Linked DNA regions of Homo sapiens: region 2 is linked to region 1. A link means that fine-mapping ties the variant in region 1 to the expression of a gene that starts in the linked region. Tissue or cell type: whole blood. Region 1 holds a variant in brackets; the other region holds the start of a gene. All regions are shown on one strand. Distances are between the middles of the regions. Region 1 overlaps OSBPL11 (oxysterol binding protein like 11). Region 2 holds the start of OSBPL11 (oxysterol binding protein like 11).

Region 1 (16,471 bases):
GTCTGTCTGTGTTGCCCAGGCTTACTTAATTTTTTAAAAGTATGTCAAGTAACACAGCACTAGATATTAGATGCTCAATAAATACTTGATTAATTAAATACTAAATTTCATTTGTGGCCGGGCATGGTGGCTCACGCCTGTAATCCCAGCACTTTGGGATGCGGAGTCAGGCAGATCACCTGAGGTCAGGAGTTCAAGACCAGCCTGGCCAACATGGTGAAACTCCGTCTCTACCAAAAATACAAAAATTAGCCAGGCATGGTGGTGAGCACCTGTAGTCCCAGCTACCCGGGAGGCTGAGGCAGGATAATCACTTGAACCTGGGAGGTGGAGGTTGCAGTGAGCTGAGATTGCACCACTGCACTCCAGCATGGGCAATAGAGCAAGACTCTGTCTCAAAAAAAAAAAAAAAGGATAATACATTTCCTACTCCTACATTTCTGCTGTAGTAGTCTGAGCATCCCTTATTATAGCACTCTATAACCAAGCTTCTGTGAAACCTAGATCAGCAACTGAAATCAAATGGAACATTTTCCATTATTGATTAGGCATAGAATCCACTTTGTTAAACTAGTCGAGGGTAACAAGAGACATTTGAATCATTAACCGAGAAGATGACAGGTCTCCAAATGTGACCACTGTCTTCACTGGGTCAGTTATTATTTATTCAGTAGAAGAGTCTTTCAGTTTAAGTTGTATGGGGCTTTTTAAAAAATGATTTCGAAAAAGGACATGTATTTGCAATTCTTAAATTAGATCCGGGGGATTATTTTGATTGGTTAGACAATTGTTGCTGAGAGTAAGACTCGATCCCAAATTGAAACAAATCTTACTGTTTCACAGTCCCAGACTCCTCCTGTAGCTGTGCCTCTCTAAAGCCTAATTGCATATTTTTTAATCAGTAGAGGGACAAAGACAACAAATCAACTGTTAGGTTGGGAATATACTTCGTGATTCACAGACTTGTCCAAGAAGTAAATTCAGTCCTATTCAGGGTTGATTTCTTTTAAATAGTATCTGATATCAAGTTGCAAGTTGCTCTGTTGTAAAATACCCAATCATGGTGCTCATGCTAATGAGATATAAGTGGCTGTCTTGCAGGGTCTCTTAACAGGTTTAATTGCTTTTAGGCTTGTAGGCTCAAAACAAAATTGTTAAAATCCACATCTGCCGAACTTTCTAGATTATGAGCAAGTTTCAGCGAAAGTTTTCTCTTACTCCATCAGGAACGACAATCGAGTGGTTAGAACCAAAGATATCTTTATCAAACCACTATAAAAATGGAGCTGACCAGCCCTTTGCAACTGATCAGAGTAAGCCGGTGGCAGTCCCAGAAGAGCAGCCTGTTGCAGAATCTGGACTATTAGCGAGGGTAAGGTAATATAAAAATATGATTTTGATGTGAAAAATTAGGTATCACTGAAAAAGGGTCAGTTTTCTTTTCATTGTCAGCTCATGCACATCAACTTAACACCTGAGCAACACTCTTGAAGATTCTAAAACATTTTAAACTGCATTGTTTTTGAAGAGGTCTCTTATATTAAACTTGTTGAATTTTCCAGGTTAAATTATATGCCCTTTTAACTTTTAGTTTACTTTTGCTTGATAAAAATATATTTTAAAAATTGAAATTTATGTTTTTCTTTTTCTAGAAAATAACTTATCTAATGAGATTTGCACAATGTTTGTCTCTTATGTTTCTTAACCTATTATCTTAACATTATTTATTATTAAGTTTATAATCTTAAAAGTTGAGTCTTTTTCATAGTAAGCACTTTACCAAGCCAGTTGTTTCAAGTATTACCCTACTTAAAATAGCACATAATCTTAGGGTTTATATTTTTATAAACTATTATTCATTTCACATTTCTTAGAAGCTGAAGAGTGTTTTATTCTATTCATAATCTACCACTGTAACAAATCATATTGATATTTTTGCCTTTTGTGTTCACATCTGTTATTTTAAGCTATTTTTACTTGATAAGCATTTTCCTATGTTGTACTGGTCTGTATAATTAAAGCTTGAAATAGTCTATTGAGTTAATGTCCCTATTGTTGAATATCTAGATTGTTTGGAGGGTTTTTTTTTTAATTATAAATAACACTTTATTATCTTGTTTCCAACTTTTTCTCCTTTTTTTTTGAGATGGAGTTTCGCTCTTATTGCCCAGGCTGGAGTGCAATGGCACAATCTCAGCTCACCGCAACCTCCGCCTCCGGGGTTCCAGTGATTCTCCTGCCTCAACCTCCCTAGTAGCTGGGATTACAGGCATGCGCCACCATGCCCAGCTAATTTTGTATTTTTAGTAGAGAAGGGGTTTCTCCATGTTGGTCAGGCTGGTCTCGAACTCTGGACCTCAGGTGATCTACCCACCTCAGCCTCCCAAAATGCTGGGATTACAGGTGTGAGCTACCGCACCCGGCCTTCTCCTATTTTTTTTCTTAGGTTATCTCTTTAAGTTATATTACCAAGTAGCATTACTGAGTCAAGAGTAATGCATAGTTTATGGTACTTTATATATTCGTAAATTACTTCTTTAAAGAAATATATGGCACAGGGACTTCCAAAGTTGGCAAAAGTTTTGGCTTGATAAGACAGGCATTGCAGGCAAGGGTTGGCAGGGGAGAAGAAAAAACAATAATGTATAAAATGCTTATTTCTCTGTAGCTGTTTGACTGGCTTATTTGTAGAAACAGCAGTTAGTAAGTATTTATTAAGCTTAGTATATGGCAAGTACAATGCTAAGAATTAGAGGAGAAGCAAAAATTAGAAGATACAGGTTTTTCACTGAAGAGACTTATAATCTGCTTGGAGTCACAACATATACACTAAAATGAGATGATAATATAAAGCAATATATTTTTTTCTTAATTGATACCATGTAGGCTATTGGGATAGGGGCATTCAGAGAAAGGAAGAAGACATATTGAGTCGGGTACATGAGAAATGCTTTGGGGAGAAAGTGGGATTGGAATTGGGCTTTGAAAGGAGACAGGATTTGAAGGGAGGAGGAAGAGAATGGGAATCTCAAGATGAAGGACTAACACTAGCAAGGATCCTAAGGCATGTGTGTTTATTGAAGAGAAAGCTTGCCTGGTAATTTTGAACCCAGGATATGCCATTCACTGACATGTGAACCAATTAATTAACCACTCTTAGCTTCAACTTCCTCATCGGTAAGGTAGGGATAATATACTACCTTGTAAGATCCTTATGAGGATAAAATGAATTTAGTAGAACACCTGGCTTATGGGAAATGATCACAGTATTTTTGGATTTTACAACTCTGAATGGCACTATTCATGTTGTACTCTGTGGAATGAAGCTTCCAGGAGCACTGCTCCATAGAATGCAGTGTAAATTGTGCCTCCAAATAACATAAAAATAATGCAGAAGGGTTTAGTCTTAATGACAATAGCGTCATGATCATGGGTAAGAATGTACTATGTTTAAGAAGATTGGTACATGATACGACTTGGAATAAAATGTGAATAGAAGGATATGGAAGTAGACATGAAGGCAAATGAATAGATTATGTGCATTTCAAATGAAAAATCAATTGGATTTGTGACTGACTGGATATAGGTTTGGATCAAGTCAAGTCCCAAGTTTTTGACTCTCAGTGGTTAGATAAAATTGTATTGTCATTCACAAAGGAAAATTAGGAAGAAAGAGTCTTTTGAGAAAAAAGGTTTAGTATAATTATAAACATGTAAATTTTACAAGAGAGGAGGTTATGTGATTATAAATGTGTATAAAAAACAATTAAGGGGCCGGGTGTGGTGGCTCATGCCTATAATCCCAGCACTTTGGGAGGCCAAGGCAAGTGGATCACTTGAGGTCAGGAATTTGAGACCAGCCTGGCCAACATGGCTAAACCTCATCTCTACTAAAAACACAAAAATTAGCCAGGTGTGGTGGTGTATGCCTGTAGTCCCAGCTACTTGGGAGGGTGAGGCAGGAGAATCGCTTGAACCCAGGAGGTGGAGGTTGTAGTGAGCTAACACCACTGCACTCCAGCCCAGGCAACAGAGCAAGACCCTGTTTCAAAAAGAAAAAAGCAGTTAAGGGACCGGGCATGGTGGTGGGCACCTGTAATCCCAGCACTTTGAGAGGCCAAAGCGGGTGGATCGCTCGAGGTCAGGAGCTTGAGACCAGCCTGGCCAACATGGTGAAACTCCATCTCTACTAAAAATACAAAAATGAGCTGGATGCAGTGGTGCATGCCTGTAATCCCAGCGACTCTGGAGGCTGGAGGAGACATTCTTCACTCTTTTTGAAAAATTCTATTTTCCCCCCAAAAAAGAAAAATAGTTCTTATGTGATATATATGGCAAAACTGCAATATGTTCAACATCAGCAATAATGGGGCTCTCTGAAGGAAATTTATACCATGGACAAATAGTTGTATTTCTGAAAGATTTTTGCCCATACTCAGATTCACTTAGGTCAAATACAAATGTCTTCAAGTCTGATATTTATTGTTTTGTTCTCAATGGATATGAATAGGTAGTTAAAATACTAGACTTTTGCTTTGTTTTCCATCAAGGAGCCTGAAGAAATAAATGCAGATGATGAGATAGAGGATACATGTGACCACAAAGAGGATGACCTGGGAGCTGTAGAAGAACAACGTAGTGTCATCCTACATCTCTTGTCACAGCTTAAGCTGGGCATGGATTTAACAAGAGTAAGTAATGGCATAAGCTGGCTATGGAGATTGTTAAGGGCTGTACCAGTAATTGTTCATGTTTATGTCAGGACTTTTTATTTATTTACTTTTTAAATTTTAATTTTAATTTTTTTTGAGATGGAGTTTTGCTCTTGTTGCCCAGGCTGGAGTGCAATGGTGCGATCTCGGCTCACTGCAACCTCCACTTCCTGGGTTCAGGCAATTCTCTTGCCTCAGCCTCCTGGGTAGCTGGGATTACAGGTGCCCACCACCATGCCCAGCTAATTTTTTGTATTTTTGGTAGAGATGGGGTTTCACCATGTTGGCCAGGCGGGTCTCGAGCTCCTGACCTCGTGATCCTCCCACCTCGGCCTCCCAAAGAGCTGGGATTACAGGCGTGAGCCATTGCACCTGGCCGGTCTTTTTATTTTTTGTGATTTTTATTTTTTATGATTTTTTTTTTTTAGTCTCCTGATCAGTATTTTTTATTTTCATAAAAAATGGCTTTCTTGGCCAGGCACAGTGGCTCATGCCTATAATCAAGCTGGCCTTGAACTCCTGATCTCAAATGATCCACTCTCCTCGGGAGGCCGAGGTGAAACCCGTCTCAGGAGGCTGAGACAGGTGGATCAATTGAGGTCAGAAGTTCAAGACCAACGTGGTGAAACCCCAACTCAGGAGGCTGAGGTGGGCAGATCACTTTAGGTCAGGAGTTCAAGACCAGCCTGGCCAACGTGGCAAAACCCTGTCTCAGGAGATGGCTGAGGTGGGCGGATCACTTGAGGTCAGGAGTTTGGGACCAGCCTGGCCAATGTGGTGAAACCCCGTCTCTACTAAAAATACAAAAATTAGCCGGGCATGGTGGCCTGTAGTCCAGCTACTTGGGAAGCTGAGGTGGGAGGATCGCTTGATCCTGGGTGGTGGAGGTTGCAGTGAGCTGAGATTGTGCCACTGCGCTCCAGTCTGGGCAACAGAACGAGACTCCATCACTAAAAAAAAAGGCTTTCTGGCTTTCTTGTGCAGCAGGAAGTTGTCTGGCAAGTAATACCAATTGTCTTTGAGTTTCAGAACAAAATTAAAGAGTCCATTGGTATACTATACTGGAAAATGTAGAGAAAATTACGTAATCCTACAGAACTATGAAAAGCATTGACACTTCCACTTACTTCCCACATGCAGATCATACATTTGGGGTATTATCTATAACAGGAGTCTGCAGACTTTTTCTGTAAAGGGCCAGATAGTAAATATTTGCAGCTATGTGGACATAGGTCTCTGTTGTAGCTATTCAACTCTGCCTTTGTAGTATAAAAACAGCCATAGACAATATACTGGATTGGGCATGGCTGTATTCCAACAAAACTTCATTTACTAAAACAGGAGGCCAGATTTAACCCAAAGACTACAGTTTGCAGATTCCTGGCCAAAAGCTTTGCTTCTTTAAGTGTGATCTGAAGACCAGTAGCATCACCATCACCTGGAAACTTGTTAGGAATGCAGAATCTCAGGCCCCAGTCCCAGACTTAGTGGACCAGAATCTGCATTTTAATAAGATCCCTGACGATTCATATATACATTAAAGTTTGAGAAGCACTAATCTGTAGTTTTTAATTTTAGGCCAGTTTTCTCTGTTCCCAGTTTAACTAGTGTGCCTTAATTTGTCTTAACAATTAATCCATGACATTAATTTAAAAAGCCAATCAAGTTCAAAACCTATATATGTCAAATATTTATTACTGTAGGATTATTTACTTTGAATTACTGATGAAACAATTTTACATTAGTATGGAATTTCAAAATTGACTTTAGGAGGTAGATGTCAATTGGAGATTTTTTTGATGCCATTGAAGGTAGATTTAAAACATTGTTTCCAACGAACTGTTCATCTGAAAATATAACTTAAATAGAAAGCATAAGAAGCAGACATTTTAGGAATTAATAAAGAAACCCATAAAGCTTTCATTATTTATATAGCTTCAGTATTTCAACTGGGAATCATTTCTGTTCTAGAAATATTTTCATATTAATGGTTCAGAAAAGACCTCATAGTTGTGAAATTGGTTAAAAATGAATAGTCTTCTGAAGGGGTTGTTTGGTATTAGTTAGCATGGTGTTTGCAGTCCCTGAGTAGATTTGCATTTATAAGGCACAAGAGCAGCATTGAGGTTTATGAGGCATAAGAGCATTTGAAAAAAGTGTGCTGTGATAGTAATCCACATGGTAGAAGTTCTCTCATGGCATGAATAAGTGCATATACTATACTTTCTCTACATTTGTACCTTGTTGATTAAAAAGTTGTATGTGGCTGGGTGTGGTGGCTCATGCCTGTAATCGCAGCACTTTAGGAGGCCAAGGCAGGTGGATTACATGAGC[T/C]CAAGAGTTCGAGACCAGCCTAGCCAACATGGCGAAACCCTGTCTGTACCAAAAAATACAAAAATTAGCTGGGCATGGTGGTGCACGACTGCAGTCCCAGCTACCATGTGGCTGAGATACAAGAATTGCTTGAACCTGGGAAGTGGAGGTTGCAGTGAGCCAAGATTGTGCCACTGCCAGCCTGGTCAACGGAGCGAGACCCTGTCTCAAAAAAAAAAAAAAAAAAAAAAAAGAAAGTTGTATGTGTTACACATATATTACATTAACATTAACCAACCACAAATTAAGAACATCTATACAACATTTAATGGAATGATACTTTTCAGGCAATATTAAAGAGCCTGGTGGCTGGGTGCCATGGCTCACACCTATAATTCCAACACTTTGGGAAGCTGAGGCGGGTGGATCACTTGAAGTCAGGAGTTGGAGACCAGCCTGGCCAACATGGTGAAACCCCGTCTCTACTAAAAACAAATTAGCCGAGCATGGTGGTGCACGCCTGTAATCTCAGCTGCTCAGGAGGTTGAGGCAGGAGAACCGCTTGAACCCAGGAGGCAGAGGTTACAGTAAGCTGAGGTTGCGCCACTGCACTCTAGCCTGGGCGACAGAGCTAGATTCTGTCTCAAAAAAAATAAACAAATAAATAAAAATAAAGAGCCTGGTGACTAAACTGCAGTCACAGCTACCTCTTATCTAACAATAACACTTAATTAACAAATATTTACTGGGCCCCTGTTATATTCCAGACACTGTGCTAGGTCTTGGGACAGGAACAAATAAGATAACCATGGTCCTAGCCTTCATGTTGTGAATAAGTAATATGCATTTTCCTACTGTTCATTTTGTTTCTTTTTAAATAATATTATGAAATTATATAAACACAAAATTTTAGAAAACTAAAGAAAATCTATCATTTTACTACCCTAACATAACAGAGCTCTCACTTTTATCTTTCTTCACATTGTCATAGTTTATATGGAATTTTGTTTTACTTCCTTTTTTCAGTTAATTTTTGTGTGTATGAAATGTGTTAAACACACAGAAGACTGAATGGTATACATATAAACATTCAAAGAAAAAAGATAAAATGAATACCCATGTATCTACCTCTGACATTAAGTTGTAGAACACTGCCTGAACTTGGAATCTCTGAGTTCCCCTCTAATTTATAGTCCTCTACTTTTTCCTCCATAAAACAATTTACTTGACTTGTGTGTTAATTATCCCTCTACTTTTTGCTATAGTTTTACTGCTTTTTTGTACTCCATAATGATGTTTAGGAAAAAATGAATAGCTAACATAAGCTTAGCATAAGGAAAGGACTGTGTTGCCATTTGTAGAAAGCAGCTCCCAGAAAAAGACAAGTTAAACATTTGAGTCTCTGGCTTTAGCTTCTTATAAGTTATTGAGAAAGTTTAGAAGAGCCCTTTCTTGTGAAATTATAAGGCAAAGTTGTGAGTCCTGTAAAATATACATCCCAGAGCATTTGGTGTGAGTCAGCTACAGGAGGAATGTGGGCTGGGGGAGTGAGCTGCTCAGTATTTTCAGTTTCAAAGCAAACTGTGACCTACCTCCAACTCTGAGGAATAGATTGAAGTCAGAAGGCTTCTTTCGGGGAAATGAGCATCTTCAGCCAATCCAGACAGCAGAACATGGAGAGGAGACTAAGAACTTCACCAGCAGATAGTCAACACAAGCCAAATACAGATACACTTGGGATCAGTTTCACTAGGCTATTTTATCCTGAGGTTTGAAAAGATGATACAATGGCAGCATGAAGCATGTGGATGACAGTCTTCAGTATGTCTGTCTCTTGAGTCACATCACTCTAATCTGGACCAGTATTTCCTTTAGCATTCTCTTTGGCTAATCCGTTTACTGTATCCGTTTCTTCTTTCTTGGTTGCCTCTCATTTTGTTGGAATATATCCTCCATTAATTTCTCAGAAAGATTTGTAAGAAGCGAATGTGAAAATGTGTGTCTGAAATGTCTGTGTTGCCCTCGTGTTTCATTGCTGGTTTAGATAGAATTTGTTACTTGTGGCCAGGTGCAGTGGCTCACGCCTGTAATCCCAGCACTTTGGGAGGCCAAAGCAGGCAGATCACTTGAGGCCAGGAGTTTGAGACCAGCCTGGCCAACATGGCAAAATCCCCTCTACTAAAAGTACAAAAATTAGCCAGGCATGGTGGCACATGCCTGTAATCCCAGCCATTCAGGAGGCTGAGGCACAGGAATCACTTGAACCTGGGAGGTGGAGGTTGCAGTGAGCTGAGATGACGCCACTGCACTCCAGCCTGGGTGACAGAGCGAGACTCCATCTCAAAAAAAAAAAGATAATATCTCCGTGCTGCAGGGTTCTAATGAAAAGACTGAAGTCATTCTGATTCCTGATCTTTTGTTTGTGACTTGTTTTGTATGTTCTTCTCTCCAAAATTGTTTAGAATCTTCTCTTTATCATGTCTTGGTATTGTGACATTGATGTAGGTTTCTTTTATCCATTGTATCTGGGCACTTGGTGGGCCTTTTCAGTGTGACAACTCATGTTTTTGAGTTCTCTGAAATTTTCTTGAATTATTTCTTTGATGATTGTATTAGGGTTCCTAGAAGGACAGAAATAAGAGGATAGATGTATATATAAAGGGGAGTTTATTAAGGAATATTGACTCATACAGTCACAAGGTAAGGTCTCATAATAGGCCATCTGCAAGCTGAGGAGCAGGGAATCCAGTCCGAGTCCCCAAACCTCAAAAGTAGGGAAGCCAGCAGTGCAGCTTTCAGTCTGTGGTTGAAGGTCCAAGAGTCCAAAAGCGAAGAACTTGGAGTCCGATGTTCAAGGGCAGGAAGCATCCAGCAGGGGAGAAAGATGTAGGCCAGAAGACTCAGCAAGTCTAGTCCTTCCATATTCCCCTGCTAGCTTTTATCCTAGCAGCTGATTAGATGGTGCCCACACAGATTGAGGGTAGGTCTGCCTCTCCCAATCCACTGACTCAAATGTTAATCCCCTTTGGCAACACCCTCAGACGCACCCAAGAACAGTACTTTGTATCCTTCAATCCAATCAAGTTGACACTCAATATTAACCATCACAATGATTTTTCTTTCTTCTATTTTGTTTGTTTGTTTGTTTGTTTTCTCTGAAATCCTTATTATATGGCCATTGAACTTCCTGGTCTGGTCTTTTATTGTTCTCTCATACTTTTCTTTTTCTCTCTTTGTCTGTCTTCTGTGTTATGGGAGATTTCCTCGCCTTTTATCTTTTAACTCTTCTTTTGACTTTTAATTATTGTCATGTTTTTAAATTTTCTGATTTTTTTAAAAAGCATTCTTGTATGTATATAATATCTTCTTAATTCTCTGAAGATATTATTTTTTATTTTTGTTTTTTCCCCTCCTTTGAGGTTTCTGTTTCCTCCAAATCTGTTTCTTTATTTTGTTCTTTATATTCCTAGTTAGAGGTTTTCTCAGAAATCAGATCTTCTGCTCACAATTAAGTTTAGGGAAACTAAAATCTGATTTTAAGCTTTAACACGTAGGTGGCGCCTATGTTTTTCATTGTCCCATAATCTGGATGGGCCATTTGTTGGGAGACTTGGTGTCAGTATCATTAGGTTTTTCTTCTAGGTTTAGTCAAATTTCCCAGAAGAAAAATTTTTTCATCTCATACTTGGTGACTCCAAAAGGAGTTAAAAAGGAGAAGAAGGCTGCATGAGAGAGGGTGTTAATAGCTAACGTTTAGTTTATATGGAGTTATTAAATGCCCTTGTTATGTATCACTTGGTATCCACTCTCTTAGAATTCCTTGCTATTCTCCAGTCTAGAGAATAGACCACCTTGTTTATCCAGAGGCTAAACCTCTAGACTTTGAGGTCCAAGAGGGTAGTTACTAACAGTGTGGAGTTGGGGGTTTGAGTTAGGCATCTAATTGCTTTCCATACAGATTTTACTCAGTTATTTTTATTTTATCATTTCTGTGAATCCCCAGATCCAGAGGTACCTAGTGCGATCAGCTCCTGAGCCTTTTTAGGAATCTGTGCATATTGTAACCTACTGCCTAAGTTTCAGCTTTCTAGTTAGGAACTCTCAAAATTTTGTTGTGTTTTGTCTACTTTCCTGGTATCTCTGGGTTTGTCTTTATATGAAGTTAATTTAATTTCAGTGGAATTTCGACAGAAAGTGAAATTAAGATGCATGTGTTCAATTCACCAGCTGAACCTGCAACATCCACTGTCTTTTGTATTATTTGTATCATCTTCAAAACCGTCTTTTTAAATGACTATAATAGTCAATTAAATGAAAGTTCCCTACTTCAGTTAGCTAGAACCGTAGTTTAAAATGCAGGTTGTTCTAATTATTTTTTCACATTGCTTTTCCTTCATTCAATTATTTATTTCCTAAGGCTAGATTCTTGGAATGTAAGTACTAGGCTAAATGGGTAAGAACATCTTAGGGCTCTTGAAAAATATTGCCAGATTTTGCTTTCTCAGACGTTTAAACCATTTTGCAGTGCCTCTCCCAACTCTGCTTTAAGTAAAATATTTATCTTTCTTACACTTACCTGGTTTTAAGTATAAAAATTTCTCTTATTGGAAATAGTTCTCTTGTGCTTAAGATTAAATATATGTTGCAGTTTTTGCTTCGGTCTGTGATCTCTTTAGTCTGTTCTCAGGGAATGACATTTATTGACTTTTCTCATGTCTTGGTCATTCATCTACAATTTAATTTTAACATAGGAAAGGAGCAAAGGCATGGCTAACATTTACTTTGAGTTTTAACACCATTTCCCTGGTGATACTTTTATCCAGTCTAGAAGTTTGAGGATTTTTTTGAAGTTTCTTCTGACTCTCTTGAATTTATGTTTAGTCTTGGGCAGATTTGCCTGTCCTTTTAAGAATGCTTTTTTGTTGTTGTTGTTAAGACAGGGTCTCACTCTGTTGCTCAGGTACAAGTGCAGTGGCGCAGTCATGGCTCATTGTAGCCTTGACCTCCCAGGTGATCCTCCCACCTCAGCCTCCTGAGCAGCTGGGACCACAGGCACAAGGCACCATGCCCAGCTAATTTTTGTAACTTTTGTAGAGACACGGTTCCACTATGTTGCCTCAGCTGGTTTCGAACTCCTGTGCTGAAACAATCCTCCCAACTTGGCCTCCCAAAGTGCTGTGATTATAGGCATGAGCCACTGCGCCTGGCCAAGAATGCTTATTTTTTAATGTGACTGAATACTTTTTCTTTGTGACTTTGTTTTTAATACCCATCTAGAATGAAATGTTTTCAGAGAGAGAATAGTTGTCTACAGATATGCTACACATGGATTAAATTTCCCCTCTTTCATTGATTGTTGTTTTAGGTGGTGCTTCCTACATTTATCCTAGAGAAGCGTTCCTTGCTGGAAATGTATGCAGACTTTATGTCTCATCCAGACCTATTTATAGCCATCACTAATGGAGCCACAGCTGAGGACAGAATGATTCGCTTTGTTGAGTACTACCTTACCTCATTTCATGAAGGCCGTAAGGGAGCCATTGCTAAAAAACCATACAATCCTATCATTGGAGAAACATTTCACTGTTCCTGGAAGATGCCAAAAAGCGAGGTAGCATCCAGTGTTTTTAGCAGTTCTTCCACCCAGGGAGTCACAAATCATGCTCCTTTATCGGGGGAGTCTTTGACCCAGGTGGGATCAGACTGTTACACAGTCAGATTTGTTGCTGAGCAGGTTTCTCATCATCCTCCAGTCTCAGGATTTTATGCAGAATGTACAGAGAGGAAGATGTGTGTAAATGCGCATGTCTGGACTAAGAGCAAGTTCTTAGGCATGTCAATAGGCGTGACAATGGTTGGAGAAGGTAAGTAGAAAAATTATTTTATATATATATATATATATACACACACACATATATATATGTATTTTTTTTTCCAAGCAGGAATGAAAGTTTACTTTAAAAGGCTTTAGAACAGGAAAGAAAGGAAAGTTCGCTTGGGAGAAACCCAAGCAGGCACGTGAAGGTCAAGTGCCTGTTTTATAATTTTTAATATCAAACTACAATCTTAAATTTAGGAACCCCAGATAAATATTAACTCTAAGTTTAAAATATTATGTTACTTTTTCGCTCCAATTTCTAGAGTGTTCCAGAATGCTTCTTGTGGGGATGGGAGGAGTATATCTATGAACTAATGTAAATTCTCTTTTTAAATTATTTTTTTCTGATTTTAAATATTTCTTTTCGTTTGTTTTCTTTTCTTTTTTTTGAGATGGAGTCTCGCTCTGTCATCCAGGCTGGAGTGCAATGGTGCTATCTCCGCTCACTGCAAACTCCGCCTCCCAGGTTCAAGCGATTCTCCTGCCTCAGACTCACGAGTAGCTGGGATTATGGCGCCTGCCACCATGCCACCACACCCAGCTAATTTTTATATTGTTAGTAGAGATGGGGGGTTTCACCATGTTGGTTAGGCTGGTCTCAAACTCCTGACCTCTGATGATCCACCCACCTCGGCCTCCCAAAGTGATGGGATTACAGGCATGAGCCACCGTGCCTGGCGATTTTAAATATTTCTTATCAAATATTTGGAAAACTAGAAAAGTACAAAGCAGAAAATAAAAGCTTCTGTAATGCCTGCATCCATATATATATAAATTTAATATTTTATACTTTTTCTGTGTGTGTATGTTCATACTTTTAGCCTTATAAAATTAGAATTAATAATATATATAGTTTTGAGTCCTGCTTTTTAAATTAAATATATTCATTTTATCATGTCATTGATAAAACATATTTTAATGACTGCATAATATTCTATGAAATAGATTTTCCATCCTTTTTTTTAATTTAATTTAATTTAATTTTTTTTTTTTTTTTTTTTTAGAAACAGGGTCTTGCTCTGTTGCCCAGGCTGAAGTGCAGTGGCATGGTCATAACTAACTGCAGCCTTGACCTACTCGGCTCAAGCCATCCTCCTGCCTCAGCCTCCCAAGTAGCTAGGACTACAGGCATGCACCACCATGCTAGGCTAATTTTTTTAATTTTTATTTTTAGAGACAGGGTCTCAATATGTTGCCCAGGCTGGTCATGAACTCCTGGGCTCAAGTGATCCTTTGGCCTCCACCTCCAGGCATTAGCCTGTAATCTCAGCACTTTAGGAGATGGAGGCCAGAGGTGCTATTCATAGAATATTTAGGTGCTATTCATAGAATATTTAAAAATATATGCTGATAAAAGTTAATTCTACTTCATCAGAAGATTATGAAAAAATTATTTTTGGAAATGCAGAGTTTTTTGACCAAGAATATGAAACAAAAACAAAAATCTCCACAGAAATTATTGAAGAGTTAATGAAAATATAATGATAGGAAAAAAATACCACTTTTATGTTAAAGGAAAACTCTTATGCAAAGAACACTATGCTCTGAATGTCATCTTACAGTGTAAGCATGGCATCATTAAGCCAATCTAATATTTTGAGATTGTGTTATAGTCGTTATGAAGAAAGTATCCTCTTTTTCAGTTTTCCTCATTTTTAAGTTCTGTTGTAATATGTCTTACCAATTTCCAAATAATATTTCAAGTTAATTACAACTTTTATAACATTAGAAAGTACTCTCTTTTTTTTTTTTTGTTTGTTGTGTGTGTGTGTGTGTGTGTGTGTGTGTGTGTGTGACACGGTCTAGCTGTGTCGCCCAGGTTGAAGTGCAGTGGGGCCATCTTGGCTCACTGCAATCTCTGCCTCCCAGGCTCAGGCCATCCTCCCACCCCAGCTTCCACAGTAGCTGGGATTACAGGCGTGCGCCACCATGCCCAACCAATTTTTGTATTTTTTGTAAAGATGAGATTTTTGCCATGTTGCCCAAGCTGGTCTCAAACTTGTGAGCTCAAGTGATCCACCCACCCCAGCTTCCCAAAGTTCTGGGATTACAGTTGTGAGCTACTACACCCAGCTGAAATCATTCATATTTTATTAGTTAAAAACAAAAAGTTTGCTACCCTCCATCATAAGCTCCGTCACGTTAGCCTTAAGCACTTCATAGATCAACTTGCTTATTTTATAAGTGAAAAAAAACTGAAGTCTAGAGATGATGAGACATGTCTAAGGTCATAAATGTTAAGGAATAGACACATTTAGAACCATATTCTTTGACACTCTCCCAAAGGACAGTTAATCTTATCAGTTCATGTAACAGTAAGAATCTGGAAATGGTAGCCTCTCACACTGCAAGAAAGGAAGTACTTCAAGAAGTGAAGAAAAGCCCAGCACAGTGGCTCACACCTGTAATCTCAACACTTTGGTGGGCCGAGGTGGAAGGATAGCTTGAACCCAGGAGTTTGAGACCAGACTGGGCAACATAATGAGACCCTATCTCTACAAAAATTTAAAAAAAAAAATTAACTGGGCATGTTGGCTTGCTTCTATAATCTCAGGTACTTGGGAGACTGAGGTGGCAGGATCACTTGAGCTCAGGAAATTGAGGCAGCAGTGAGCCATGATCGTGCCACTGTACTCCAGCCTGCATGACAGAGGAGAACCTTGTCTCAAATGTAAAATTTTTTAAAAAGAAATGGAGAAAAGCATTCATGTCTTAACCATGCTTTAATTATAAAGGAGGTATGTAAATAATTTTTTATTGTGCTGCTACATATTAATGGAATATATTGGAAATTTAATGGTTATCGATATCCTCAACAGAAAGTAAGTAAAAGTCAGGAATGGGGCTGGGCGTGGTGACTCACGCCTGTAATCCCAGCACTTTGGGAGCCCGAGGTGGGTGGATTAGCTGAGGTCAGGAGTTCGAGACCAGCCTGGCCAACATGGGGAAACCCCGTCTCTATTAAAAATACAAAGAAAGTAGCCAGGCATAGTAGCAGGCACCTGTAATCCCAACTACTTGGGAGGCTGAGGCAGGAGAATTGCTTGAACCCGGGAGGCAGAAGTTACATTGAGCTGAGGTCGTGCCATTGCACTCCAGCCTGGGCATCAAGAGTGAAACTCCATTTCAAAAAAAAAAAGACTTAAAATATATACAAGTATGTTGTCTGTCATCTGACAGCTCTCATGTATAAATATAGCCAGAACCATGTTTTTTGGGAAATGGCTCAATAAACCTTAATTTATTGTTGCCCTTTGTGAAGACTATTAAGAGCAATACAAAAAAAAAAAATAGTTGATGTTGCTTTGTGTAGGCTACTTTAGAATCTCATTTTGTCTATTTGCTTATCCTAAAAATTAACTATATTAAAATATTTATCATATACTTGCCCTTATTTGTGAACATTGAGAACTGAGTGCTTAACGAGCATTTATTAAGAGGGAGATGCCATAAAAGTTTGGACTAGTAGTATATATCCACTTCAATATGTGGTCTGTTGATGACACAGGTAATGAGTTTAGAAGGTTAGTAATGTAGCTCGAGTATCCTTAGTATCCCTTAATTATCT
Region 2 (16,471 bases), 39 kb before region 1:
CTCTACTAAAAATACAAAAAATATAAAAATTAGCCAGGTGTGGTGGCACATGCCTGTAGCTACTCAGAAGGCTGGGACAGGAGAATTGCTTGAATCCAGGAGGCAGAGGTTGCAGTGAGCCGAGATTGTGCCACTGCACTCCAGCCTGGGCAACACAGCGAGACTCCCTCTCAAAAAAAAAAAAACAAAAAAACACACACAAAAAGCATTTCTACAAAGTAAAAAAATTAGCTGCATAGAGCCTTCCAAGGTGCAGTTCCTTCCCTGCCAGGGGCTTTCTGGGCACATCCTTCTATCTCCTTTATGAAGATTCATGATGCACATTAGCACAGTAAATTCCCCAAGAAATTCTGCAATAAAGGAACCAGTCTCACTTAAAATAAAATTAGTGTTTTTCAAATGTATGAAATCACAGCAAGAAAAATTTTAAATCAAGTAACACCTACTAATACCCCACAATATTGTGTGGAGTACATATTGAAAAGTGCTCCCCTAGTGTTTGCCTTTTTTTTCTTTTGGTAAAGGGATGCAGTTTTTTCAAAAGAAATATTGGCACATGCCCTCTCACATTAATCAACGTTCTCCGTCAAATGAGTCATTTCATGGAAACAATACACTCACATACCATCTCAAAAGCTGATCTACATGAGCGCTCCCCGGAATTCATAACCCTGACATTTCATGCTAGTAAGCATTAGTTGCCTTCTCTCTCCTTTCCCATGGCAACCCCTGGCATTCCCCACTTGACGATGGAAAGGTCACGTGACTGCAGTTAAATCTGTGCATTTTATTGAAACTGTGAGCAAAATACTACCTGCACTAGCCAAATGAGTCTAAAAACGGACAAAAAGGACACATAGCTTTAAAATAAATGCGTTCTCATTTTATAATACAGTTTTAAAGGCTCCAGTGAAATACTTTTAAGTTCAATAGGGATTCAAGGGAAAGTTGTGGAGAGAAGCAAACAATGGGAGGGAAGTTTCATTTTATCAAAATCGGAATAAAATAGACTCTTTTTCTCCTTTCCCATCCTTCATTCCTCCTCTCAAATAAAAACACCAACTGTGTCTATTTCTTTCACTCCCACTACAAGCTTTGAGCTTGGCAGGGGAGTGTTTGAAGAGAAATGCTGCTCTCTTGGAGCCCTTTAGCTGAATCACTCCATCAGAGTGGGAAATCACAAAAGGATTTCTGCCTAAACTGCAGGCGAGTGTGGTGGGAGGTAGAGGATCTCTTGATTAATTGAAACTCTGTTTCAGCAAAGTAGTAAAACCTATTATCAATGTGAACACTTTGTCTTCTCAGAATGTCTTTCTTCCTTTTCTTTCTTTTTTTTTTTTTTTTTCTTTTGAGACGGAGTTTTGCTCTTGTTGCCCAGGCTGAAATGCAATGGTGCAATCTTGGCTCACTGCAACCTCCGCCTCCTGGGTTCAAGCGATTCTTCTGCCCCAGCCTCCTGAGTGGCTGGGATTACAGGCATGCGCCACCACGCCTGGCTAATTTTGTATTTTTAGTAGAGACGGGGGTTTCCCCATGTTCGTCAGGCTGGTCTCGAACTCTGGACCTCAGGTGATCCACTCACCTTGGCCTCCCAAAGTGCTGGGATTACAGGTGTGAACCGCAACGCCCGGTCTCGTTTTCTTTTTTTAAGAAATTCTGGGTTCACAACCTTATTCTCAGTGGGAACTTTTTTCCTGGCTGCATTCCTCCCTGTGTTGCCCTCCTCTCATGGGATTAGCACTGTTTCCCGCACCCCTGCTCCCTGCTACCCTGCCCCGAGTTTCTCTGTGGCCTATCCTCCCATTCATTCCAGCTGCGGGTTCTTGTGCTTCAAGGAAACTAATCATACTTCCCTTTCTTGCATGTCAGGGTTAGAGAGAGAAAATAAAAACAGGCAGCATTTGTTCTAGTGCACTAGACATCAGGCACTCTTTTTTTTTTTTTTTTTTTTTTTTTTTTTTTTTTTTTTGAGACAGGGTCTCGCTCTGTCACCCAGGTTAGCTAAAGTGCAATGGCACAGTCTTGGCTCACTGCAACCTCTGACTCAAGCAATCCTCCCTCCTCAGCTTACCTAGTAGCTGGGACTACAGGCACATGCCACCTCACCCAGCTAATTTTTTTTTTTTTTTTTGAGATGGAGTTTCGCTCTGTCACCCAGGCTGGAGTGCAGTGGTGCGATCTCAGCTCACTGCAACCTCCTTCTCCTGGGTTGAAGCAATTCTCATGCCTCAGCCTCCCGAGTAGCTGGGACTACAGGTGCATACCACCATGCCCGGCTAGTTTTTGTATTTGTAGTAGAGATGGAGTTTCACCATGTTGGCCAGGCTGGTCTCAAACTCCTGACTTCAAGTGATCCTCCCTTCTCGGCCTCTCAAAGTGCTGGGATTACAGGTGTGAGCCACCACTCCTGGCCCCATAATTTTTGTATTATTTTGTAGAGATGGGGTTTCACCATGTTGTCAAGTCTGATCTTGAATTTCTAGGCTCAAACAATTACCTGCCTTGGCCTCCCAAAGTGCTGGGATTACAGGTGTGAGCCATCATGCCTGGCCTTCTACACGTTTATTTCATCCTATTTTTCCATTTTACAGATGAAAAAACTGAGGCTTACCAAGGCAAGTAACCTCCCCAGGATCACGTGCACTAAGTGGCAGAGCCAGGATTTGAAGGCTTGTGCCAAAGTTCATGTTCTTAACCACTGTAATAAATTCATCCACTCATTCAACAAATGTGTCAAGCAATGGTCAAGTATTGGGGACACTGTAGTGGGGAAAAAAAAGAACCAAGTCTTTCTTCACAGAGCTTACATTCTAGTAAGGAGACAGACAATGCATAACAAAGCATATAATGTTGGCCAGGCGCAGTGGCTCAGGCCTGTAATCCCAGCCCTTTGGGAAGCCAAGGCGGGTGGATCACCTGAGGTCAGGAGTTCGAGACCAGCCTGGCCAGCATGGCAAAACCTCGCCTCTACTAAAAATACAAAAATTAGCCGGGCATGGTGGCGGGTGCCTGTAATCCCAGCTACTTGGGAGGCTGAGGCAGGAGAATGGCTTGAACCCAGGAGGCAGAGGTTGCAGTGAGGCAAGATCATGCCATCACACTCCAGCCTGGGCAACAGAGGAGACTCCCTCTCAGAAAAAAAAAAAAAAAAAAAAAAAAAAAATGTCAAGTGCTATGAAGAAAACTAAAGCACAGTAAAGGGATAGAGTGTAATGGGTAGGAACTGCTACTCTGTATAGAGTGGTCAGGGAAGGTCTCTAGGAGGAGATGACACTGAAGCAGACATGGCCTTAGGTATCTACATTTTCACACTGACACCCACAAACTGGGTGATTTCAGGTAATGTTCTTAGAATTCTACATTTATTGTACATACTCTGATGGGTCTCTTTTGATTAGAATTCCTAACTTGAAAACTCCATTGCATTTGGGAGACAAAGCTGGCATTCTCCCACAGAAATATGTTGAATGTCTTCAGAAATATGTTGTTTGATGTGTCTTCAGAGATGTCCCTAGCAGAAGGGTGCCCTCACCAAACACCAACATTCGTTTTACTTAGCAGGTAGCCCTACCCTTCTAAACAATGGCTAACAGTTGCTGAACACTTAGCTCATCCTGCGTCAGACCAGAGTCTAAGTGCCTTAAATGACATGAGTCGTTTCATTTAATGCTGACAACCCCTCAAAGAGAGAGACTGGCTTGGCTGCCATAGCAAAATACCATAGACTAGGTGGCTTAAACAACAGCAATTTATTTTTTCACAGTTCTGGCGGCTGATAGTCCAAGGTCAAGATACCAGCATGGTCAGTTTCTGATGGCGGCTCTTTTCCTAGGTTGCAGGTAGCTGTCTTCTCCAAGTGCCCTCACATGGCAGGGGTGGTGAGGGCTGGGGCATGGTACATGCTAGCTTTCTGGTGTCTCTTCTTACAAGGGCACTAATCCAATCATTAGGACCTCATCAAAACGTAAGTGTCTCCCAAAGGCCCTATCTCCAAATACCATTGCATAGAAGTTAGGCCTTCATTGTAGAAATTTGGGGAGTAACACAGTTACTCCTATTTTATAGGTGATGAAACAGGCACAAAGAGGTTAGGTAACTTGCCTAAGGTCACAGGGAGTGGAATCTGCGTGTCAGTCTGATAGAAGAGACCATGATCTTGACCACTATGCATACGCAGCTTCTCTCCATGGGCAGGGCACCCTCATCTCTTACCCAGCTAGACTGGTAGGGAAGGCACAGAGATGAAGTACACATCCTTCTTTGATGGCTTTCAAAAAAGTACATTTCTTTACCTTCCTTATTCAAACAATATGTCCTCCTCTCTCTTTGGATGCTGAATGGAACAGTCAAACTCAGATCCTATTGTAAAACATTTTGGTAAAAAGTTTTGGCTTTAAAACAAAGCAAAACAAAACATCTATCCTACCAACTCCCATGGCCATGACTCCACAAGCATTATAACCTTCTGATAATAATTTAGTTTATCTTGCTGAGTTTCTTACACCAAATGTGCTGACACTCAAACCTGAGTACTCTAGACTGTATTTTTTTTTTTTTTTTTGAGACAGAGTCTTGTTCTGTCATCCAGACTGAAATACACTGGTGTGATCTCAGTTCACTGCAGCCTCAACCTCCCGGGCTCAAGCAGTCCTCCCACCTCAGCCTCCCAAGTAGCTGGGACTGCAGGCATGTGCCACCACACTCAGCTCATTTTTGTTTTTTTACTAGAGACGAGTTTTGCCAGTTGCCCAGTGTGGTCTCAAACTCCTGAGCTCAAATGATCCGCCCTCCTTGGCCTCTCCCGGGTCCAAGCGATTCTCCTGCCTCAGCCTCCCGAGTAGCTGGGATTACAGGCATGAGCCACCACACCTGGATAATTTTGTATTTTTAGTAGAGACAGGGTTTCACCATGTTGGTCAGGCTGGTCTTGAACTCGCGACCTCAGGTGACCCGCCCGCCTCAGCCTCCCAAAGTGCTGGGATTACAGAAGTGAGCCACCACACCTGGCCAGTAATTTCTAATCTTATAGCTAATTTGTTAGTCCTGCAAAGGCAGACTGGTCCCCAGGCTAAAAGAGGGGTCTTTTCGGGAAAGGGCGATTATCAATTTTGTTTCAGAGTAAAACCATGAACTGAATTCCTTCCTAAAGTTAGTTTGGCCTGTGTCCAGGAATGAACAAGGACAGCTTAAAGGCTAGAAGCAAGATGGAGTCAGGTCTGATTTCTTTCACTGTCATAATTTCCTTAGTTATAATTTTGCAAAGGTAGTTTCACTATTGCAAATCCAGTCCATTTGCAGTACTGTAGCCCCATCCCAGACACAGCTTGGATCCATTTACTTCTCTCTATCCCCACTGCCACCACTCTAGTCCAAGCCGCTATGATCTCTGCCCTCATTCCCTATAATATCCTCCTACCTAGTCGCCCCGCTTCCTCTTTTTCTCCCACTAAAATTAATTCTCCATGCAGCTAGAGAATTTGTTTTTTAAAAAATAGCATTATCACAATATAATTCATCCACCATAAATTCACCCATTTAAAGTATACAATCGAGTTTTCATATACTTACAAGATTGTACAACCATCACTATTATCGAATTTTAGAACATTTTTATTACCCCCACCCCCAGAAAACCCCATACTCATTAGCAGTCATTTCCCATTCCTCCTTTCTCCTATCCCTAGCAACCACTCATCTACTTTCTATCTCGATGGATTTGCCTATTCTGGACATTTCACATAAATGGAAGCATACAGTATGTGACATTTTTGCGTCTTGCATCTTTCACTTAGAATCATGTTTTTTATATTTTTATCCCACAAGCTTTTTTCCACTTTTATATTTATGTATTTATTTAAAGAGACAGGTCTTCTATGTTGCCCAGGCTACCCTCAAACTCCTGGGCATAAGTGATTCCCCCCATCTCAGCTTCCCAAGTAGCTGGGACTACAGGTGTGCATGACCACACCTGGCTTTCCATTATTTGTCTTTGTTTTTTTTTTTTTTTTGAGATGGAGTCTCACTCTGTCACCCAGGCTGGAGTGGTACGATCTCAGCTTACTGCAACCTCCGCCTCCCAGGTTCAAGCAATTCTCCCGCCTCAGCCTCCAGAGTAGCTGGGATTACAGGTGTGCGCCACCATGCCCAGCTAATTTTTGTATTTTTAATAGAGATGGGGTTTCGCCCTGTTGGCCAGGCTGGTCTCGAACTCCTGACCTCAGGTGATCCACCAGCCTCAGCTGCCCAAAGTGCTGGGATTACAGGCGTGAACCACCGTGCCTGGCCTACATACCACAAATTCTTTACCCATTCATCTGTTCATGGACACAGGCTGGTTCCATATTTATGCTATTGTGATAGTCCTTCAGTAAACATGTGAGAGCAGGTATCCTTTTGATATGTTGATTTCTTTCCCTTTAGATAGATACTCAGTAGTGGGATTGCTGGGTTGTACGGTAGGTTTATTTATTTACTTTTTTTTTTTTGAGACAGAGTCTTGCTCTGTTGCCTGGGCTGGACTGCAGTGGCATAATCTCGGCTCACTGCAAGCTCCGCCTCCCAGGTTCATGCCATTCTCCTGCCTCAGCCTCCCGAGTAACTGGGACCACAGGCGCCCGCCACCACACCCGGCTAATTTTTTGTATTTTTAGTAGAGATGGGGTTTCACCGTGTTAGCCAGGATGGTCTCGATCTCCTAACCTCGTGATCTGCCCACCTCAGCCTCCCCAAGTGCTGGGATTACAGGAGTGAGCCACCATGCCCGGCCGGTTTTTGTTTTTTTCTTTCTTTCGTTGAGACTGAGTCTTGCTCTTGTTGTCCAGGCTGGAGTGCAGTGGCGCAATCTCAGCTTTTAGTAGGATGAGCCGCAGACAAAACCTCTCAGACACCGAGTTGTAGAAGGAAGGGCTTTATCCAGCTGGGAGCATCAGCAAGCTACTGCCTCAAAATCTGAGCTCCCCAAGTGCACAATTTCTGTCCCTTTTAAGGGCTCACGACACTAAAGATTTCACATGAAAGGGTCATGATTGATTTGAGCAAACAAGCGGTACATGACAGGGGCTGCATGTACCGGTGGTCAGAGAGAAACAGAACAGGGCAGGGAGTTTCACAATGTTCTGCTGCACAATGTCTGGAATCCATGAATAACATCGGTTTCTAAGTTATGAGTTGATTTTTAACTACTGAGTTTAGGCCAGGCAGGCCCAGGCCTGGTTTCCGGCCTGGCGCTGGGCTGCCTGTCTTTGGTTTTACTTCCTTGCTGTTTCTTTTTTTCTTAAAACAGGTACTGAGTATAAAACAATATGAGAGGGTCTCTCTCCTTCCTCAGGCTCACTGCAACGTCCGCCTCCCAGGCTCAAGTGATTCTTCTGTCTCAGCCTCTTAAGTAGCTGGGATTACGGGCACGCACCACCATGCCCGGTTAATTTTTGTATTTTTAGTTGAGAATGGGTTTCACCATGTTGGCCAGGCTGGTCTCGAACTCCTGACCTCAAGTGATCCGCCCACCTCGGCCTCCCAAAGTGCTGGGATTACAGGCGTGAGCCACTGTGCCCAGCCTCAAGTCATGTTATTATAAACTAAAATTAGCAATTAGGAGAGACTTTAGAAATCTACCCATGCACTCTTGTTTTACAAATCCAAAACCAAGGCCTAAACAAGGTGAAAGATTTGTCTGGGGTCTGGAAGAGTACCTAGCTCTGTTCTGAGATCTCTAATTTCCATGACAGCTTCTTTTTAATTTATAATAATGATTGGCTTTACTCCAATGTCATGCTTGCCCCCCCCCCACCCCAAGTAACTAAAACGTACAGATGTTTGCTTCGTTCTTGTACTTTCTTATTTTTGTAAGCTTTCTTCCTAAAATGCCTGGAACGGCCCCTCAAATGGAAGGCTAGGACGTGGTTAGGAAGGCGGGCACTCGGCCGGGCGCGGTGGCTCACGCCTGTAATCCCAGCACTTTGGGAGGCCGAGGCGGGCGGATCACGAGGTCAGGAGATCGAGACCATCCCGGCTAAAACGGTGAAACCCCGTCTCTACTAAAAATACAAAAAACTAGCCGGGCGTAGTGGCGGGTGCCTGTAGTCCCAGCTACTTGGGAGGCTGAGGCAGGAGAATGGCGTGAATCCGGGAGGCGGAGCTTGCAGTGAGCCGAGATCGCGCCACTGCACTCCAGCCTGGGCGACAGAGCGAGACTCCGTCTCAAAAAAAAAAAAAAAAAAAAGGAAGGCGGGCACTCACACACCAGAAGGGAACTCTCTAGTGCTGCTGGCTCCTTTGTTTCTTCCTCCTTCACTGTCCGGGTTCCTCGTTCCGTTGCGGCGCCCTCCCTCGCCCTCCCTCGCCCATCAGCCAGTCGCCCAGCTACCAGCTCCCAGAGCCTCCGCCTCCTTCAGGGACCCGCCGCCCTGACCCAAGATGGCGCCAGACGCTTCGGCTGTGAGGGAAGTGAGCTCACGCTACTCCGGAAGGGAAGGCGGGAAGGGAGCAGGGGGCGGGGGGTGGCTGACCCGCTGTGGGGCTGTGGGGCTGTGGGGCTGTGGGTGGGGCGGCGGCCGCGGCCCTGGCATTCGCGCTTGGGTCTGGAGATAGCGCGAGAGACTCACCGGCTCCTGGGAACCCAGTCGAGGGCCCGGGCCAGGGGCATAAGAGGAAGTTGTCCCGAGTGGCTCGCCTCTGGCCCTGGGAGAGGCGGCCCCGGGAGCCGGCGTCCCGCCCCCGGCGGCCTCATTCCCCGACCCTCCTCCCCGGCTGCGCGCGCCGGCCCTGGCTGTATCTCGGGGGCTGCGGCGGGAACTGCCGAGCGGGCTTGACTGGACGCACTGCCTGAGGACCTGCGGAGGAGACGAGGGAGCGCGGCGGGTCAGCCCCGAGGTTAGGCCGCGGGTCCCCTGTCCGTGGCGCTCCGTCCTTTTCCCAGCCGTCTTGGCTACAGAATCTGCGACCTCCCCACACTCCTTCTCTTTTGAGTATGTCACTTAAGTCTTCTCGCCGGATGCTTTTTCCTCCTTGCTTTTGCCGGAAAGGAGAGAGATACATGTGAAGGATATCTGTCCTCGTTGCTTCCCCTGCCCTCTCAAAAGTTTAACTTCTGTGGGAATGTGTATCTTCCTTTTCTGGACCATTTGACAGTCCCGCCCCAGCCGCCGTGTGATTTAGCAACCGGTATCATATTCAGATCAAATCTTAAAAAAAAAAAGTCACCTACAGAACTACAGAATTGTTCTCTCCCGCTCAAGAAGGGCAAGTGGACTTTGGCGTTAAGATGCAGGGGGGTGAACCAGTGTCCACAATGAAAGTCTCGGAGAGCGAAGGAAAGCTGGAGGGCCAGGCCACAGCGGTGACCCCGAACAAGAACAGCAGCTGTGGAGGTGGAATCAGTAGCAGCAGCAGCAGCCGCGGTGGCAGTGCAAAAGGCTGGCAGTACAGGTATGCTCCTTTCTCCAAAATTATTTCCCGAGGTGGAGGTAGGGGTGAATATGCCCTGGAGGCTGCATCCCGCAATTGTTGAAAGATAAAAGTTTTTTCACTGGCTTCCAGAAGCTACTGATACATCTCGTTTGGATCTGGGACCTCGCCTAAAAGATTTAATCCATTCATTTGTTCATTCAACAGGTATTTATGGAAGGCCTTTTGAGGAACACAGAAATGTATCCCTGAACTTCCTCTACAGTCAGAGAGTTAATGCTTCCTCAGATTTAATTCTGTACTCACTTCTGCTTTTGCCTATGTTGCAATTTATTTACAAGCCAGCTTTCTCTGATAGACTGCGAGGGCAGGAACTGTTTAACTCAGCTTTCTCGAGAGGGTAGCAAATACTGGTGCTCAAAACTTACTTGTCCAGAGCTTCTCCAGAATCAGAAAAGATTCTTGCCCTGAAGGTATTTGTGACTTGGAAAGGGGAATGTACATAAGTAATTGGAATGCAAGGACAAAGGTAGAGATCCTAATGCCTCTGATAAACTAAACCTGAGCCTGGAGATGTTCAGTTTGCGTTGCTCAGGCCACTTCAATGCTCTCTGTGTTGATGAGAAAGTCTATATTTGTTAATTTTCACTAATATGAATGAACAACTTAAGGAACAGGAGGAGAGTCCTGGAGAGGCAACAAGTTTTGTTTTTGTTTTTTCATATATGAAGTGTAGGGAGAAAGAACTATCCAGAACCTTAAGAATGAATGAAACAAACCAGCACATCCCATCGTATTGGAACTAAAGGGATGAATTCTTAAGTTTTGATTGACTCCTATGTGCCTAACTGTAGTCCTTTTTAGCCTTTGTGCTTATTTGTGCTTGTGAAATTTTTGTGAAACTTGGAAGGGATTAAAGCCAAGATTTTGTGAGGGATATACATTTATCATGAATAATATTCATATGTATGAAATATGCATGACTATATTAACATATAGAAGTGAAGTATAGAAGATTATAATTTTTTTTTTTTTTTTGAGGCAGAGTCTGGCTCTGTCACCCAGGCTGGAGTGTGGTGGCGCGATCTCGGCTCACTACCACCTCCACCTCCTGGGTTCAAGCGATTCTCGTGTCTCAGCCTCCCGAGTAGCTGGGATTACAGGCGTGCGCCACCACACCTGGCTAATTTTTGTATTTTTAGTAGAGATGGGGTTTCACCATGTTGGCCAGGCTGGTCTCGAACTCCTGACCTCAAGTGATCAGCCCTCCTCTGCTTCCCAAAGTGCCGGGATTACAGGCTTGAGCCACCGCGCCTGGCCAGAAGATAACTTTTTATTGGTAAGTGACTGTAGGATAAGAAGATATATTCAGTTAGTTTGAGAGGTCTAGGCCCGCTTTTGGAATCAGCATGATTTTTTTGTATGTGTGTGACCTGTGGCAGGGGCCGCGGGTCCCCTGTCCGTGGCGCTTCGTCCTGACCTGCTATGGGGCTGTGGGTGGGGCGCCGCCGCGGCCCTGGCATTCACATTTGGGTCTGGAGAGAGCCGGGAGTCTATTAAGTTGGTTGTGAGGTGCCTTCGAATGTTATTTTTGGTTTACAACTTTCTTGATGATATTGTTTGCAGCACAATGGTTTTTAATTTTCATGAAGTCTAATGAGTTTTTTCTTCTCTTGTTATAGTTTTGTGTCACATCTAAAAAAACATTGTGAAGTTTAAGATGACAAAGATTTACACTTATGTGTTTGTCTAGGAGTTTTGTTTTAGTGCTTATGTTTAGGTTTCTGATGCATTTTTAGTTCATTTTTCTTTATGATCATTTTTTTTTCTTTTGTGAAACATCTACATATGTGTTTTTTATACATTTCCTGTTAGGTCTTAATATTTTTCTTTTTAATATGCTTGATATCTCTTATTAAAATGTCAACATTAAATACCAATATTCCTTTAAAAATATTTTGTTGATTTTTCTTCTTTTCAATAGGTAAAGGGATGAGTATATACAATGAAACATTTCCCTTACATACTTTCCCAGCCACTCGGTTTCCTTCTCTGGAAATGCTATCTTTTACTGATTTCTTGACTATAATTCCAGAGAAATTTATATTAGTTCTTTATTTAATAAACATGTGATGACATGCAATATATTTTAATTTTGTATAAATTCTTTGCTATACTTTCTGCAAATATTTCACTAGTCCTCAGATTTAATTTCATTTTTTTTGACACACAGAAAACTTTTAAGTCAGACCTCTTATTCCTCTTTTCCATCCATTTCTAATTATAAAAAGTAACTTTTATAAGTACTTGGTTTTGGCTGGCACTGTAGCTCACCCAAAGTGTTGATCCTTAGCACTTTGGGGCGCTGAGGTGGGAGCATTACTTGAGCCCAGCAGTTTGAGACTAGCCTGGGCAACATAGAGAGACCCCATCTCTACAAAAAATTAAAAAATTAGCCAGGCATGGTGGCATGCCTACTCAGGAGGCTGAGGTGGAAGGATTGCTTGAGTTCTAGGCTCCAGTGAGCTGTGATTGTGCCACTGCACTCAAGCCTGGGTGACAGAGCAAGACCCTGTCTCAAAAATAGTTAAATAAATAGTTGTTTTCATGAAGTTTTAAAATAATTTGGTAGTTTTACAATTTAACTTTTTTTTTTGAGACAAGGTCTCTCTCTGTCTCCCAGGGTTGAGTGTGGTGTCTCCATCATAGCTCACTGCAGCCTTGAACTGCTAGGCTCAAGTGATCCTCCTATTCAGCTTCTGGAATAGCTGGGACTACAGGTGTACACCACCATGCCCAGCTAATTTTAAAATTTTTTTCTAGAGGCAGGATCTTGCGATGTTGCCCAGGCTCATATTTAACTTTTTAATCTATCTGGAATTTATTTTGAAATACAGTGTGAGATAGTGTATCTACTACTGCATTACAAATTACCCCCAAATTTAATATATTAGCAGCATTTATTATTTCATAGTGTCTTTGGGTCAGGAATCTCAGTGCAGCTTAGCTGGGTCTTCTGGCTCTGAGTCTTTCTTAAGACTGAACTGGGAAGGATTCATTTCCTAGCTGATTCATGAGACTCTTGGTGCAATTCAGTTCCTTTTGGCCCATTGGACAAAAAACTCAGTTCCTCATGAACTGATGGCCAGAGACCTCCTTTGTTCACTGGCCACATGGGCTTCTTCACAGAGCATCTTACAACTTGGCAGCTTGTTTCTTGAGAATGAGGAGGTAAGAGGACTAGAGAGTGCTACCTGGAGAGAAGTTAACAGTCTTTTGTAACCTAAGCACTGAGGTGAATTCACATCACTTTTCACTGTTCTTCAGAAACAAGTCCCACACAAGGGTGTGAGAATACCAGCAGGTGGGGATTATTGGGATTTATGCCAGAAAATGCCTAGGCAGTTAATATAATAGACTCAAGATTGTAAAGACTAGAGGGGAAAACGGACTTGGGGAGTCAAATTATGTATCTGGTTTTAGGTATGTCCAGCTAAAGTTGCCAGAATGTTTAAGTGTCTTATCTAGCCAGTCCTCAGAGATATGGAGTATTGGAAATGTAGATAATTGTCTTTACATTATCCAGAATGTTTTCACATCTGTTATCACATTTAATCCTCCCAACTCTGGAGGAAGATACAGCATTATTATTCCTGTTTTGCAGTTGAAGAAAACCTAAGTCTAAATGACAATATAGACTTAGGCAATATAGTACATGAAGTTATATATTGCATGTAGCTAAGGTTACATAGCTAGTAAGTGGGAGAACTTTTATTTCTAGATAGATATTTACATAGAGGTATTAAAAGTAGATAAACTCTCTAAAAGGAATGAATAATTATTGATAATAACTAGTTTGGTACATGGTTGGTTTTATGGTTTACTCATGTTCTAACTTATGTAGCAAATATTTTTGAGTCTCTACTATGTCTGAAGCACTCTTTTATTAATGCCAAATTAATGTGCACACCCAAAACAACGAAAGAATGAATTCTAAGGCTTATTTTAGGAGGATCATCAAAATAATCAGGAAAAGGAAGGGCATCAGTGGCATTTACAAAACAATCTCATGATGACCTTTTGAAAAAAAAAATTTTTTTTTTGAGACAGAGTCTGGTCCTCTTGTGCAGGCTGGAGTGCGGTGGCAGATCTTAGCTCACTGCAACCTCTGCCTCCCAGGTTCAAGTCCAAGCGATTCTCCTGCCTCAGCTTCCCAAGTAGCTGGGACCACAGGCACTTGCCACCACACCCGGCTGATTTTTGTATTTTTAGTAGAGATGAGGTTTCACCATGTTGGCCAGGCTGGTCTCAAACTCCTGACCTCAAGTGATCCACCCACTTCGGCCTCCTGAAGTACTAGGATTACAGGCGTGAGCCACCGTGCCTGGCCCTTTTGAAAAATTAAACTTAAGAACTTAATTTATTAGATTAGCCTTGTATTTTCTTGTTTCCAGAGTAATTTATATTCATATGATGTGAGCTTTCTTTACCATTTACAGAGAAGATAGATTTCCCAGTTCTGGGTCTTTCCTTCCTTTTTCATAGTGAATATTCACACTTTATAAAATATGCATGTTTTCATTATTTTTGTATTCTTCATGTCAGCTTGTAGAGAAATTCACAAATCTGCAAATATGCCACCTGCTTATTAAAATGGGCAGAAGAGAACTATTCAAAAGAGGAACTGAAAGACAAACCAGGGTGTTTGATGGCCTGCTTTTTTTTAAAATTTTGAGCTCCTCACTGGCTAATCATATTAACAGATAAATCTATTTTCCTCATTAGCAAACAGCTATACTTTTCAGTAAATGTGTAAAAGTCTGCAAATGTGTAGTATAGAAATAATTTTTGTGGTCAGACCACAATAATTTTGTGGTTTCTTCCACTGTCAATACTATTATAAGGAAAAGTGCCTGTTCGCGGATGGGAAAATGAGATTGGCCTAAATATAAATGAATGTTCATGGTCTTAGAGGTTTTACCTCTTCTTCTGAGTTGATTTGAAGAAAAAGTCATAAATGTCTGCTTTTTTTTTTTTTTTCCTCTGCAGGGGTTAAAGGAAAATTGATACATATTTCTACACTCTAGTTTTTGTTTTCTGTATCTGACATCTGCTATAGATGCTGGTAAAAACAAGAGAAAGATAATTGTAGGCATGTAACTGGAAACTATAAAATATTATTCCAAAATCTAGTTAAAAATATACCAAGTCTTGAGGAGCAAGAGTTGGTTTATTAATAATGTGCTGTGATTTCTTAGTTTCCTTACATTTTTGCACTACATATCTTTTCTGTTTTGTTTTTTTTTTTTTTTTTTGAGATGGAGTTTCACTCTTGTTGCCCAGGCTAGAGCACAATGGTGCAATCTTGGCTCACCACAACCTCTGCCTCCTGGGTTCAAGCGATTCTTGTGCCTCAGTCTCCCGAGTAGCTGGGTACAGGCAGGTGCCACCCGGCTAATTCTTATATTTTTGGTAGAGACGGGGTTCCACCATGTTGGCCAGGCTGATTTCGAACTCCTGACCTCAGGCGATCTGCCTGCCTAGGCCTCTTAAAGTACTGGGATTACAGGCGTGAGCCACCGCACCCGGCTTTGTCTACATTTCTAATCATTTGTCATAGATGGGATACCTAAAAGTGAAATTCTAGGGCCAAAGAGTGCTAACATTTTTAAGACTCTTGGCAGGAGGGAGGACCCCTCTCTTGACTTTATACTTTTTGTCATAGATTAAAATACAGTTAGACTTTATTTTGTTTGCGATTTTGAGTATACAGTCTGCGAGTTGAATTTTTTGGGGAGGAGGTGGGCAGGTTACTGAGAATTGCCTCATGGCTTCATAGAAAAATTCTGTTTCTTTCTTCCCATTGCTTAATTCATTCAGCAAATAAACATTATATCCCAGGCTACACACTAGCTGTTGCGAGGAATATCTCTTAATGTCATTAGCCTTTTCCTCAGCTAAGCAAGCCACTCCCCGCTTCATGCTATTTCTTATCCAGAGAATGGACCAAAGTGCTAAGCCTTTTGGGAGGATACTTTTTGCCTAGTTGAAAGTATGGATTTTGACATGTGACTTGCCTGGTACCTCATATTTACTGACTACAACTTGGATTCCTGCCTGTAGTTAAATACCTTAAGGTATCGCTATTTGGCTTTTCCAGGAAAATAGAACCAATAGGTAGATATATATAGAGAGAGATTATGAGGAATTGGCTCATATGACTGTGGAGCCTGAGAAATCCCATAGCTCAGTTGTCTACAAGCTGGAGAACCTCTTGACATTATCGTCAACCTCTGATGTTACTTCCAGCTGACTGCCCTCATCATTCCATTAAACTGTTATCTCTGGGTTTTAAGTCTAATGAGTCTTCTCAGTCTTTGTCATATCTTACTTTATCAGTAGCACTGAACTTCTCTTTTTTTTTTTTTTTTTTTTTGAGACAGGGTCTTACTCTGACGCCCAGCCTGGAGTACAGTGGCAGGATCTTGGCTCAGTGAAACCTCCGCCTCCCAGTTTCAAGCAATTCTCCTGCCTCAGCCTCCCAAGTAGCTGGGACTACAGGCATGCACCACCACGCCCAGCTAATTTTTGTATTTTTAGTAGAGATAGGGTTTTACCATGTTGGCTAGGCTGGTTTTGAACTCCTGACCTCAAGTGATCCACCCACCTCAGCCTCCCAAAGTGCTGGGATTATAGGCATGAGCCACTGTGCCTGGCCTGAGACAGAGTCTTGCTCTGTTTCCCAGGCTGGAGTGCAATGGCACGATTGCAGCTCCCTGCAGCCTCCACTTCCTGGGCTCAAGCAATCCTCCCATCTCAGTGTCCTGAGTAGCTGGGATTACAGGTGTGTGCCACCCTGCCTGGCTAATTTTTAATTTTTTTTGTAGAGACAGGATCTCACTGTGATGCCCAGGCTGGTCTCAAACTCCTGGCTCAAGTGATCCTCCCAAAGTGCTGGGATTACAGGTGTGAGTGAAGGCACCTGCCCACTGAATATTCTTGACCACAGACTTATCTTGAAACACTTTCTCTGGTTTCTGTCTTTCCATACTCCTAGTTTTCTTCC

The links. PIP is the estimated chance that this variant, and not a neighbour inherited with it, causes the effect.
Region 2: OSBPL11 starts here. The variant in region 1 is fine-mapped to the expression of OSBPL11 in whole blood (TOPMed, PIP above 0.99).

The regions. Positions count from the first base shown.
Region 1 is chr3:125,548,599-125,565,069 of GRCh38, reverse strand. OSBPL11 (oxysterol binding protein like 11) reads left to right here. Exons shown (of 13, transcript NM_022776.5): 7 at 1,227-1,372; 8 at 4,551-4,691; 9 at 12,391-12,889. Among named protein-coding and RNA genes, the nearest start is that of SNX4, 37 kb to the right of the region's middle. The variant T/C (reference allele first, on the strand shown) is at 7,047.
Region 2 is chr3:125,587,592-125,604,062 of GRCh38, reverse strand. It overlaps OSBPL11 (oxysterol binding protein like 11), which reads left to right and starts at 8,566. Exons shown (of 13, transcript NM_022776.5): 1 at 8,566-9,426. The coding sequence starts at 9,263. RefSeq lists a silencer at 8,449-8,858 and enhancers at 8,959-9,018, 9,979-10,038.